Linked DNA regions of Homo sapiens: all the other regions are linked to region 3. The links come from fine-mapping of genetic effects on gene expression. A gene starts in region 3. Each other region holds a variant in brackets. All regions are shown on one strand. Distances are between the middles of the regions.

Region 1 (4,103 bases), 36 kb after region 3:
CTGAAGTGCACACATTTGCCATGTGCTCTATGGCAGGCTCAGGTGTGGGAAGGAGGTGCAGGGTGTTGGTGCAGGTATGGATGGGGGAGTGTACAGTTCCAGGGGACAGAGTCAGGACAGGCTCTTGGGTCAGACAGCCCTGCTCTGATCTGTGCATAGCAGCTTTCTGGGCTGACATTTCCATGCCGTGGGATGATACCTCGCAGGGCGCCTGGACCGAGGGCTAAACCCCACAGTGGGTGTGAGATGCTGGCCTGGGCTGGCGTGAGGCAGGATGCTGGATGAGTCTAGCTGCTGGTCCTGTGGCTGCTGGTCCTGGGAAAGGAAGGCTAGTGGTGGAGTCTGGTCCTCCATCCGGCTCTCCGTGGGGACACAGAAAGGGTGGGGCCACCCAGGGCCTCACCAGGGAAGCAGGACTTGAGCTGGACTGTGAAGGACTCAGAGAAAAAGGGGAGGGTGTTCAGGACAGGGAAGGATGCACCACAGCCTGGAGGTTGGAGTGTGGGAACTGTTGAACGAAACAGCAGCTCTCCCAGCCCAACTTCCAGAAACTGTGCATCTAATCAACACAGGCCGGGCACGGTGGCTCACGCCAGTAATCCCAGCACATTGGGAGGCCAAGGCGGGTGGATCATTTGAAGTCAGGAGTTTGAGATCAACCTGGCTAACATGGTGAAACCCCATCTCTACTAAAAAATTCAAAAATTAGCTGGGCGCGGTGGCTCACACCTATAATCCCAGCACTCTGGGAGGCCGAGGCGGGTGGATCACGAGGTCAGGATATCGAGACCATCCTGGCTAACACGGTGAAACCCCATCTCTACTAAAAATACAAAAAATTAGCCAGGCGTGGTGGCGGGTGCCTGTAGTCCCAGCTAGTCTGGAGGCTGAGGCAGGAGAATGGCATGAACCCAGGAGGCGGAGCTTACAGTGAGCTGAGATCGTGCCACTGCACTCCAGCCTGGGCTACAGAGTGAGACTCCATCTCAAAGAAAAAAAATATATATATATATTCAAAAATTAGCTGGGCATGGTGGCATGCTTCTGTAATCCCAGCTACTCAGGAGGCCGAGATTAGAGAATCACTTGAATGTGGGAGTCGGAGGTTGTAGTGAGCTGAGATCACACCATTGCACTGCAGCCTGGGTGACCAAACGAGACTCCATCTCAAAAAAAAAAAGTTGGGTGTGGTGGCTCAGGCCTGTAATCCCAGCACTTTGGGCGGTTGAGGGAGGTGGATCACCTAAGGTCCGGAATTCAAGACCAGCCTGACCAACATGGAGAAACCCCATCTCTACTAAAAATACAAAAATTAGCCAGGCATGGTGGCGCATGCCTGTAATCCCAGCTACTTGGGAGGCTGAGGCAGGAGAATCGCTTGAACCTGGGAGGCAGAGGTTTCGGTAAGCCAAGATCGCACCATTGCACTCCAGCCTGGGCAACAAGAGCAAATCTCCATCTCAAAAAAGAATAAATAAAAATACAAAATAAAAATACAAAAAAGTTAGTCAGGCGTGGTGACGGGTGCCTGTAATTCCAGCTACTCGGGAGGCTGAGGCAGGAGAATTGCTTGAACCCGGGAGGTAGAGGTTGCAGTGAGCCAAGATCATGCCACTGCACTCCAGCTTAGGGAACAGAGTGAGACTCTGTCTCAAAAAAAAAAAACAAACCCAAAACACAAAGCACTTCCTGTGTGCCAGGCCCCGTTCTAAGCACTTCACACATAGCAAGTCATTTC[A/C]TCCTGATAGCCTTCCCCAGCGGTGAGTGAAGCAGGCCCAGAGTGGATGGGGAACTTTGCCCAGGTTGTACAGCCTGCTCAGGCCCAGCTTTCCTCCAGCAGGAAGGCAGTGGGATCCCACCTGGGTTTATGCCCTTCTCTGCTTCCTGGGGGGCCTGGGGCTACCGTGGGAGAGGAGAGCCTGGGGACTCAGGGAGGGGGCACTTTTGTCTTTGAACTGCAGGCCATCTGTGGTGCTGTGGGGGGAGGCTTGCTAAGACCCTTGCCACCTTCACCGGGGTGAGGACCCTGCCCTGTGGTGGGTGGAACCAAGACTCAGAGGTTCTCTCCCTGCCCTCAACCACCCCTCCCTAGAGGGACAGCTGTGGGGATCCACTGAGCCCATGCCCCCACCTGCTGGCCCATCCAGCCCCTTGCTGGGCACCACAGGGGTGAGGACCCAGCACGTGTGAGGGCTTTTTTTTTTTTTTTTTGAGGTAGAGTCTCGCTCTGTTGCCCAGGCTGGAGTATAGTGGCATGATCTCGGCTCACTGCAACATCCACCTCCTGGGTTCAAACCATTCTCCTGCCTCAGCCTCCCAAGTAGCTGGGGTTACAGGCTCCTGCCACCATGCCCGACTAATTTTTGTATTTTTAGTAGAGATGAGGTTTCACCATGTTGGCCATGCTGGTCTTGAATTTCTGACCTCAGGTGATCCACCCACCTCAGCCTCCCCAAGTGCTGGGATTATAGGCATAAGCCACCACGCCTGGCCGCATGTGAGGGCTTTAATCTCCCCTGGCACTCTAAGTGCTCCTCGGTGCTGGGTCAACAGCATAGTCACGTGGGGAGGGGCTGGTGCTGGGTGCTGGGATCGGGGCCTTCCCAGCCACAGCGCCACTGTGGCCCTCTCCCCACAGGGAACTTCTAATGGATTGGGGTCCATAGATGACATCGAAACAGGTAATGTCCCCGATACGAGGGAACAAGTGGAAATTGGGGCCCCGAGAGGTCAGGGGAGTCGAGCCCCCTCCCCATCCCAGCCCTGTAGATGGGAGGGCCTCCGAGGGGTTCCCCACCCTGGTACTCCCTGAGGCATGGGAGAAAACAGTGGGTTGAGAGCTACAGACCCACTCAAGGAGGGGAGGGCATCTCTAGTCTGGCAGAGAGGGGTGCTGCCTCTTAGCTAGGTGCAACAGTCCCATGGCCTTCACTCCTGGCTGCCTGCACACCCCCACCTCTTCCAAAGCCCTTTCCCCTCCTCTTCCTCATTGGCTTCCAGAAAAGGTTGCCTTTTAAGAGTGTCCCCTGGAGAGGGCATTGCTTACCCCAGAAGAAGGAGGCAGCAGTGGTGGACATTTAGGCATTGAGCCTGGGCCAAGGATTGACATCATAGGACTGAGGGCCCCTCCCTGCTCTGGGGCTGTGGCCTTCCTTGACCACCCCCTGAGCATCTGCCAGTGGGATCAGCCGATGGGGAAGGCAGGGCTCCTGGCAAGAGCTGAAAGAAGAAGGGAAAGTGTTGGATGAGCATCACGGGGCCCGGGACGCCTCCTCCACCCTCACCAAGCAGTGCTCCCCTTCGGCTCTTGCCCACCCCATCCGCAGACTGCTACGTGGACCCTCGAGGCTCCCCAGCCCTTCTCCCCTCCACGCCCACGATGCCCCTGTTCCCTCACGTTCTGGACCTGCTGGCCCCCCTGGACAGCAGCAGGACCCTCCCCAGCACCGACAGCCTGGATGACTTCTCAGACGGGGATGTCTTTGGCCCAGAGCTGGACACCCTCCTGGACTCGCTGGTGAGCCACACCACCCTCCTTGTGCTCCCCTGATCCCCTCTCCCCGCTGTGTCCCCATTGTCCCAGGGGTGGAGGGAAGGCCCCAATGCTCATGTCATGTGTCTCAGGAGGAGGCCTCAGTAGGGACTTGTTTGGTACAGAAATGAAGCTGCACACTGGGCACGGTGGCTCACGCCTGTAATCCCAATACTTTGGGAGGCCAAGGCAGCGGATTACTTGAGGTCAGGAATTCGAGACCAGCCTGGCCAACGTGGTGAAACCCCCTCTCTACTAAAAATACAAAAATTAGCCGGGCATGGTGGCACATGCCTGTGGTCTCAGCTCCTCAGGAGGCTGAGGCCGGAGAATCGCTTGAACCCGGGAGGCGGAGGTTGCAGTGAGCCGAGATCACACCACTGCACTCCAGCCTGGGCAGTGGAGCAAGACTCCGTCTCAAAAAAAAAAAAAGAAATGAAGCTGCACAATGTCTGGCCAGAAGGGACCATAGTGAGCCCTGCTCCCACATGGGACAGGATGAAGCCAGGCGACAGGGTGCAGGTCTCCTTGCTTCCCCAAGTCCTGATGCTGCCCAGGCCTGGGCAGTCCT
Region 2 (4,103 bases), 57 kb after region 3:
ATATGTGGGGAACTGCTCCTTCGCACACAGCCCGGAGGAGAGGGACATGTGGACCTTCATGAAGGAGAACAAGAGTGAGTGGGCAGACGGGGCGGGCGGGCCCTCCCCCGGTGTCTCTTCAGTGCTGAATGTCTCAATTCACCAGCGGGCCCAAGAGCGTCCACTGCACCCCTTTGCTACCTGGGCCCTTCTCCACCTGCCCCATGCCGGGCCCTCTCTGAGGCCAGGCCCTGAGGCTGAGCGGCCTATCAGCAGGACTTGGGACGCCCACGGCTCCCAAATCAAGTGGGGACCATGGGGCAGAATGGATGGAGAAGCCCCTCAGCAGGTGCCCTGTCCCTGTCCCCTGCCCAGTCCTGGACATGCAGCAGACCTATGACATGTGGCTGAAAAAACACAACCCAGGAAAGCCTGGAGAAGGGACCCCCATCAGTTCTCGGGAAGGGGAGAAGCAGATCCAGATGCCCACGGACTACGCGGACATCATGGTAACGCCTCCGCCCTGCATGCTCGGGGCTGCGGTCGGGGCTGTGGTCTGAGCCTCACCTGGGAGGGGCAGCCTGGAGGGCCCAGCCGGCCAGCGCTCAGCCTCTCCGAGGTGGGTGGTCCGGGCAGAGGTGTGGGGGAGCAGGCACCCATGATGGCTGTGCTCCCAGATGGGCTACCACTGCTGGCTCTGCGGCAAGAACAGCAACAGCAAGAAGCAGTGGCAGCAGCACATCCAGTCCGAGAAGCACAAGGAGAAGGTCTTCACGTCCGACAGTGACGCCAGCGGCTGGGCCTTCCGCTTCCCCATGGGCGAGTTCCGGCTCTGCGACAGGTGCTCCTGGGAGGGCAGGGCCTGGCGGGACATGGGGTGGCCCGAGGAGATGGAGTCCGTGGCCAGCTCTGGCTCCTCTTGGCCTGGAGGTGGTGTGCAGGGAGTGGTGAGGCTTGGCTGTGACTGCAGCCATGGGGGTGGTGGGGAAGGGTGGATGGGAGGGCTGGGCTCAGACCTATCTAGACCTTTAATTTGCAGCTGTGGGGCAGATCCCAGAGAGGGTCAGGACACCCAGGTTTTCCCTGAGCTGGGACCCAGCTGCCCAGGGAGAGGCTTGTCTTCGGGGAGGTCAAGCGGCCGGCCCCAGATGGACAGCCTGGGGTGGGAAGGGCACAGAGCTCGGGCAGTGAGCCTCCTGCCACCCACAGGCTCCAGAAGGGCAAAGCCTGCCCAGATGGGGACAAGTGCCGCTGCGCCCATGGACAGGAGGAGCTCAACGAGTGGCTGGACCGGCGCGAGGTGCTGAAGCAGAAGTTGGCCAAGGCTCGCAAGGACATGCTGCTGTGCCCACGGGACGACGACTTTGGCAAATACAACTTCCTGCTGCAAGAGGACGGGGACCTTGCCGGTGCCACCCCAGAAGCCCCTGCTGCTGCTGCCACCGCCACCACTGGGGAGTAGGGCCAGGTGTTGGCCGTGGGTGAAGTCCTGGGGTCAGGGGGTGGGGTGGGGCCAGAAGGCCTGATAGAAGGGTCAGGGCAGGCCAGGGGGGTGGGGGGCCGCCCTCATCAGGCAGCCCCCAGCCCCCTGAGGCCCTGTCCATCTTCTCCCCACCACCGCCCCGGTGTGC[G/A]TACCCAGGCGCACGTGCTGCAGCCCCCGGAGGCCCCGCTGAAACCTGGGCTGCCCTTCCCCCACCCCCACGGCTCTCCTGGTTGAGGAGGGAGGGGCCTGGCTGACCCCTCCAGCTTCAGCCTCCAGCTTTAACTTCTGTCTGCTCCTAATGGGGGCCCAAAGCTCAGGGCTGGGGAGCCTGGGGTCCCCACTTGAATCTCCAGCAGGAGGGTCCTTCTCTCCCTGGCCCGTCCTCCTCCCACCCCCTCCCCCTGGGGGCAAATCAGGACACAACAGAGGGCAGAGGCCCCATTAGCTTTAAAATGTAGCCCCAGGTTGGAGCTGGGAACACTGTACTGGCCACTTACCCTCTGGGGCCTCAGCTTTCCCTCCGGAAGGCTGGGAGGAGGTGGGCTAGATGATCTTTGGAGCTTAAGGAGTCCCAGCCCTTTCTCTGATGCCACCACCTGAACCCTGCTCCCTCGTGGGCCAGTGAAAATAGACTGTAGGTCCTCAGAGCCTTCAGAGATGATCCAGCCCAAACCCCATTTTGCAGAGAGGAAAACTGAGGCCTAGAAGGGAGGAGTGGTCCACCCACGGTCCCAGCACAAGGCAGAGCTGGGATGAAAACAGGGCTGAAAAGACTCAGGGCCAATTATTGGCTGAGCCCACGGTCCCCTCAGCAGGGATGCGATGGTCTCTGAATCAGTGTGCAGCTGGGGTCCCAGGCAGCGCTGCCTGGGGGCTGGGGAGGGGAGGCCCAGAGGAGGGCTGGCCATGTGAGCACCCCATGAAGGGACCGCCCCCTCCCAAGGATGGTCCCTTTGGGTGCAGCAGCAGAGGTCACCTCCTGACATGCGCTCTGGGAAAGGTGGCAGAGGGCAGGACACCATGAGCTCAGGATCTGTGTGAGGTGTGGGAGGTGGGAAGGGTGAGGGTCTGGGGGAATGCGGAGAAAAGGGAGGCTTGACCCCGGGCACCATGGGCCACTCCAGGATGGGACACGGCCCCTCTTTCTTGGGGACCCAGTATGTCCTCTCCTCTAGACCCAGACATACAGTTATAACCGTCTGTCCTAGCCCCTCCCTAATCCCTGGCCCTCCCAGCTGTCTGGGACTTCAGTGGACCCCCAGCCCCTGCCCCCACTCACCAAGGCCTCGCTCGTCCCTCTCGTCTGACATGTCTGTGTGCACCCCCCTCCTCTCCACCCTACCTTCCATCAACCAGGGCAGATCCACCGTGCCCTGGTTCCCCAGACATTCCAGAATGCCCCACATCATTGGCACAGGAGTGGGGCAGCCCCGGAAGGAACCAGGGATTAGGCTGTAGGGGGGTGAGAAGGAGAGAAGGGACCACCCCATTCTTCTCAAGCAAGGATTGCCAGCGCGCGCTGACACAGTGATGGGCTGCCCAGGGCTGGAGGGGACGCTGTTCCTCCCGCCGCCACTGCCCAACCTTTCCTGATAATCGTGGCATGCGCCCTTTCCTCTTCCCTGCCCCACCCCCTGGCCGCAGCAGGCCAGCACTGCAGAGTTTGGGTGCTGGTGGTGTGGCTGTAGGGGAGGGGAGACCACACCCAAGGTGGGGGCTGTGGCCATGTGTGGCCGTGATGTCGATGATACTCGTTTTCCCTGATCCGTGGTGTTGCAGTCCGTTGTCACCAGCCTTGTTTCTAGTGTGTATATATGTCGCCCCCGTGATGCATATATACACAGGTATTAAATATATCGCTCTATATAATATTATATATGTGTGTGGTATCCAAGGAATCACTTTTATGAGGGCTAAAGATAAAGAATTTGGCCAGAAAATGCAGCCATCCTTGTGTGATTAGGAGGGTTTCAGGGGCCACTGGACTATTTGCAAGGTGACAGGGACTGGAGCCATGGCTCAGAGGTGATTCGGGCAGCCAGGGACAGGAGCCACCCTCCCCAGGCCCAACTCTGCTAGCTTCCCAGACCACCCCCATCGAGTGCGGAGAGAGTGGGAGTGCTCAGGGAAAGAAGGTGATTTGTATTTGTCTCCCCGCTGAAAAGAACAGGATTCAAGTCCAGAGTTTTCATCTTCAGCCTGTGATCTGTCCAGGGACCCTTGGGATCTGGGGCTTCCTGGCCTGGCCAGAGCTGGAGCCCCCACAGGGTAAGGAAGAGAGAGTGGGAGGCAGAGTGTGATGGGGAGGAGGGACAGGAAGACCCTTTTAATGATGAGGGTAACTATTTCAGTTGTGAGCCTTCTAGGGCCCCAGGCTGGGAGGCTCAGAGGACTGAATCTGGGACCTGTGTTCCCCCCGGCAGGCAGGGACAAGATGGCATGGCAAGCATGGGGGCGGGGTGGGTGGGGAGGGATGCTGCATTTCTCAGCTGGGCAGTAATCAATTTAATGGTCCTTTAAAATGTCTGTGTATTAAAAATTTAAGAATACCACACTTTAATATTAAATATTCATAAGGTCTAGTATCTTGATAATAATGTAGATGTTTTAATAACAATTTTTGTCCTTCTTAAAATAAAAT
Region 3 (4,103 bases):
TGGTCTCGATCTCCTGACCTTGTGATCCACCCGCCTCGGCCTCCCAAAGTGCTAGGATTACAGGCCTGAGCCACCGCGCCCGGCCTAATTTTTGTATTTTTTTGTAGAGACAGGGTTTCACTACGTTAGCCGTGCTGGTCTCGAACTCCTAACCTTAGGTGATCCACCTACCTTGGCGTCCCAAAGTGCTAGGATTTCAGATGTGAGCCACCGTGCCGAGCTACAGGGTTTTTGAGAGGGTAAAAGAATCAACATATGCAAAGTGTTTGGCTCATAGTAAAGAAGCGGTGGCTGTTACTGCTATTTCAGCTTTAACATGGGGACATAGAGCACACTGTGACAACATGGGACTGACAACATGGGGCTTCCCAGAAAGCCTACCGATGCCAGCCTCCTGGCCCTTTTCTTTTTCTTTCTTTTTTTGAGACAGAGTCTCACTCTGTCGCCCAGGCTGGAGTGCAGTGGCATGATCCCGGCTCACTGCAAGCTACGCCTCCCGGATTCACGCCATTCTCCTGTCTCAGCCTCCTGTGTAGCTGGGACTACAGGCTCCCGACACCACGCCCAGCTTATTTTTTGTATTTTTAGTAGAGATGGGGTTTCACCGTGTTAGCCAGGATGGTCTCGATCTCCTGACCTCATGATCCGCCCGCCTCAACCTCCCAAAGTGCTGGGATTATAGGCGTGAGCTACCGCGCCCGGCCTCCTCCTGGCCCTTTTCTCCAAAGCATCCTCACCTCTGGTTGGGGTCTTGTAATAAAGACCCCTTTACCATCTTAGGCAGCCCAAACAATTGAACAAGTTGGTACCAACTTGAAGAGATAAGAGGCTGGTGTCCTGCTGAATCCCCCTTGAATGATGGACAGTCCTCTTCAAGAATATGTGTTCATTATTTCACCAGCAACCTGGGGTGGTGGAATCACCAGACCATTTGCCATCTAGTTCACTTGAGGCAAAATGCAGCAATCCAACTGGCCTCAGCATCCTCATCGATGAAATGAGAGTGATAATAACCATGGTGGTAAATGTGATAAGTTGTCAAGGGTGTTTCATTGTAAATTGCCTAGGGGGTATTGGGAACTCACACACACACACACACACACACACACACACACACACACACACACACACACATATATTTCTGGAGACAGTTTTGCTCTTGTTGCCCAGGCTGGAGTGCAATGGCATGATCTTGGCTCACTGCAACCTCCACCTCTGGGGTTCAAGTGATTCTCCTGCCTCAGCCTCCTGAGTAGCTGGGATTACAGGCACCCACCACCACGCCTGGCTAATTTTTGTATTTTTGTAGAGATGGGGTTTCACCACGTTGGCTAGTCTGGTCTTGAACTCCTGACCTCAGGTGATCCACCCGTCTTGGCCTCCCAAAGTGCTGAGATTACAGGCGTGAGCCACTGCACCCAGCCCTGATTGTCAATATCTAATCAGGTTCCTCATTTTCCACCATTCCCCAGGTGATGTCTGATCACCTTGCCCTGCCTTCAGCAAGAATCTTGTTAGATGGGTTTAAGCGAGAATCCTCTCATCTCTGATGCAGTTTCCTATGCACTGGCGCTCAATCAGTGGATCCTTTCTCCTTCCTCATAAATTCCCAGTTGCCCATGCTGATTTCTGAATTGAGCCCAAATACTCTCCCTGACCGCAAAACCCACTGCAGTGGTCCCTACACCCATCATGATGCCAATAAAGTCGGCCTTGTAGTCTTTAACAAGTGTCATTCAATATTTTTTTTAACATCCTATACATAAAACTCCAGCCAAGTGAGGTCCTGATTCTTCTATGTGTCTCCGGTTCCCATCTATGAGAAGGGCACAACGCAACCAGGGTTTTGGGCAGCCTTCCATGAAAGCACCTGGAAGCCGGAGAAGGGGGGCGGGGGGACTTTTGACACAGATGGGGAAGGGCGGAGGCGCTGGGTTTGAGCAGCATCAGCCCAGAAATGCAGAACTGCCAAAAGAAACCCCCCTAAAAGGCAGGACACTTTTAAAGAAAATAAAGGTGAATTCCAGGCATGAGCTTTCGACGGGGAATGGGGCTTCCCCGACTCGCCCCCACGCCCCCCGCCCTTCTCCCCAGGTGCGCAGCCCGCGCCGCCCACCCCGGGCGCGGCGAGGCGACGGGAGCCGAGCTCTCTAGGACCCGAGGAGGAAGAGCTGCAGGGAGACAGTGCCTCCAGCGGGTGCTGCCGCGAGCGGCCAGCCGAGGGGCTGGAAATGAAAGTAAAGCGCTCCAGAGCCACATGGACGGAGCTGCCGGGGCGGCGGCGCCGGGAGCAGGATGCGGCCGCCCGTAATTAAATAGCATTTACTCTTATTATTACTAATAATAATAACGTAATCATACCTCTAGTCATAGCATACCATTTATCGGGCTCGGCGCAGGCCCGCGGGGAGCGCAGCCCGGCGGAGGTGAGTGCTTGGCGCGGCCCGAGCCCCGCGGGGCAGAGGCCGGGGACACTGCGTCCGGAGCCGCCCGCGCGCGAGGGTTCGGGGACGCCCGGGCCGGGCAGGGCTGGGGAAGAGGCGAAGAGAGCCCTTTCCAGGCCGGGGCCGCGCGCCGGGCCACCTGGAAAGTGGGATTTTGCAAAAAATAAATCGTCTCTAAAACCCCATTTGCTCCTTTTTGGGGATCCCGGTCCCCGTGCCCTGCCCCAAAGTTTAAAAGTTACCGTGTGGCCGGGGGCACCTGGCGCTGGGGAGACTTGGCCGCCCCTGCAGCCCCCAGGAGGTGTCTTGAAATTTTCGTGGGGCCTCTCTCTTCGGCGTCCGGAGCTTCTGGGGTGTCCAGATGCTTTGCCGACCCCGCGCAGGGGGTCTCGGGGGCTGGCAGGGGCGTCGCTGGCAGGGCCCCCCTTCCTTTTGTGTTGTCCTTGGCCCCGCAGCACCCGGAGTTGGAGGGGCCGCGGCGAGGGCCGGGGAGCGGGGCCGCCCGACGGGCCGCCCCTTTCGGCTGCGGCGGCCACGCGAGCCCGGGGATCCGGGGCCTGCAGCCGGGCCCGCGGGAAGGGGGCGGCAGGAAAGGGGGGCGCGGTCTGGGCCTGCTGGGCAGGGGGGCGTTTCCGGTCGCAGGATCAGTCTCTGGACTTCGAGGCCTGTGGGAGGCCCGCGGCCGTCCAGGGAGTGCTAGGGGGCTGCGGACCCCGGCTCTGGCGCCTGGGGACGGGGGCGCCCTGACGGGGCTGGGGGCCTGGGAGCCGCCGACTCCGGCCTCATACCCCCATCCTGCCCGCTGCGAACCTCAGGGCCCCCCTCCGGGTTTGCTCCCTCCTCCTTTCCCCTCCTTTCTCCTCAACTCTGTCTGTTTTAGGCGTTTATAAGGCGCCTGGTTGGGGGGACTTTCACAGACAAAGCCGTCTTCCCAGGGGGGAAAATAATCATATAAAAACAGCTCACTCTGATAGAACCTGATGGCTGTATTGCCAACAGGGCATTGACGGGGAAGACTAGGGGGCTAGGGCCCTGCGTGGGGAGTCTGGGGGCTCTAAAAGGGGGCTGGGCCTGAGTGGGGAGCTGGTGATCAGCGGTTTTATTTCTCGGGTTGCTAGCTTTGGCATCAGACTTTGAACCCCAACTTCTTGCCATATTCCTCAGCATCTGCAGTTCAGCCTGATGAAAATAGCAGAATGCAGATCCTTGAATTTTCACACAAATGAGATAATTATAGTACATGTAGCAACTGTGTTGGACACAAAATGCTGGCAGAATCTTTAGTTCTACTACCAATACTTCCTCTACACACATACAGCCATCCCCTCCGTGGTGGTCTTCTTTCCCCGTGTCCACCTCCCACAGAAGTTGGACTGCAAGGTGGAAATGACACCTGGTCAACAGTTGGATGGAGCATGTTTGAGAAGTGGGGAGACTTAAGGTGGGAAGAAAGAACCTGTCCAGGAGGGATGAGATCTGAGGATGGGAGAGAGACTTTGTTGTCCCTGAGCTGGGATAAAGTTTCTGTTCTGTAGATGCTGTGTGTTCTTAGCTGCTGGCTTTTGTATAGGTTAGACAGGAATGGGGGTTTTGGTAGATTATTGTGGGGCTTAGAAGCTTGGTGGGATGTGCTGATCTCTCGAGTCTTAGTAGGAAAGC

Which allele goes with the higher level. Positions count from the first base shown, and alleles are read on the strand shown. Sizes are in standard deviations (SD) of each study's normalised expression. Not every link is listed here.
For the expression in prefrontal cortex of the gene that starts at base 2,179 in region 3, G is the low allele of the variant in region 2 and A is the other (small effect, 0.25 SD a copy in GTEx).

Evidence for each region. PIP is the estimated chance that this variant, and not a neighbour inherited with it, causes the effect.
Region 1: its variant is fine-mapped to the expression of ZC3H7B in whole blood (TOPMed, PIP 0.98).
Region 2: its variant is fine-mapped to the expression of ZC3H7B in prefrontal cortex (GTEx, PIP above 0.99).

What each region holds. Positions count from the first base shown.
Region 1 is chr22:41,335,675-41,339,777 of GRCh38, forward strand. It overlaps ZC3H7B (zinc finger CCCH-type containing 7B), which reads left to right. Exons shown (of 23, transcript NM_017590.6): 8 at 2,639-2,681; 9 at 3,327-3,517. Among named protein-coding and RNA genes, the nearest start is that of ZC3H7B, 36 kb to the left of the region's middle. The variant A/C (reference allele first, on the strand shown) is at 1,739.
Region 2 is chr22:41,355,989-41,360,091 of GRCh38, forward strand. It overlaps ZC3H7B (zinc finger CCCH-type containing 7B), which reads left to right. Exons shown (of 23, transcript NM_017590.6): 20 at 1-74; 21 at 355-488; 22 at 657-820; 23 at 1,189-4,103. The coding sequence ends at 1,441. Among named protein-coding and RNA genes, the nearest start is that of TEF, 24 kb to the right of the region's middle. RefSeq lists an enhancer at 4,008-4,103. The variant G/A (reference allele first, on the strand shown) is at 1,611.
Region 3 is chr22:41,299,347-41,303,449 of GRCh38, forward strand. ZC3H7B (zinc finger CCCH-type containing 7B) reads left to right here and starts at 2,179. Exons shown (of 23, transcript NM_017590.6): 1 at 2,179-2,426. It also overlaps a transcript of RANGAP1 not described here. RefSeq lists silencers at 1,866-2,205, 2,486-2,555 and an enhancer at 2,287-2,788.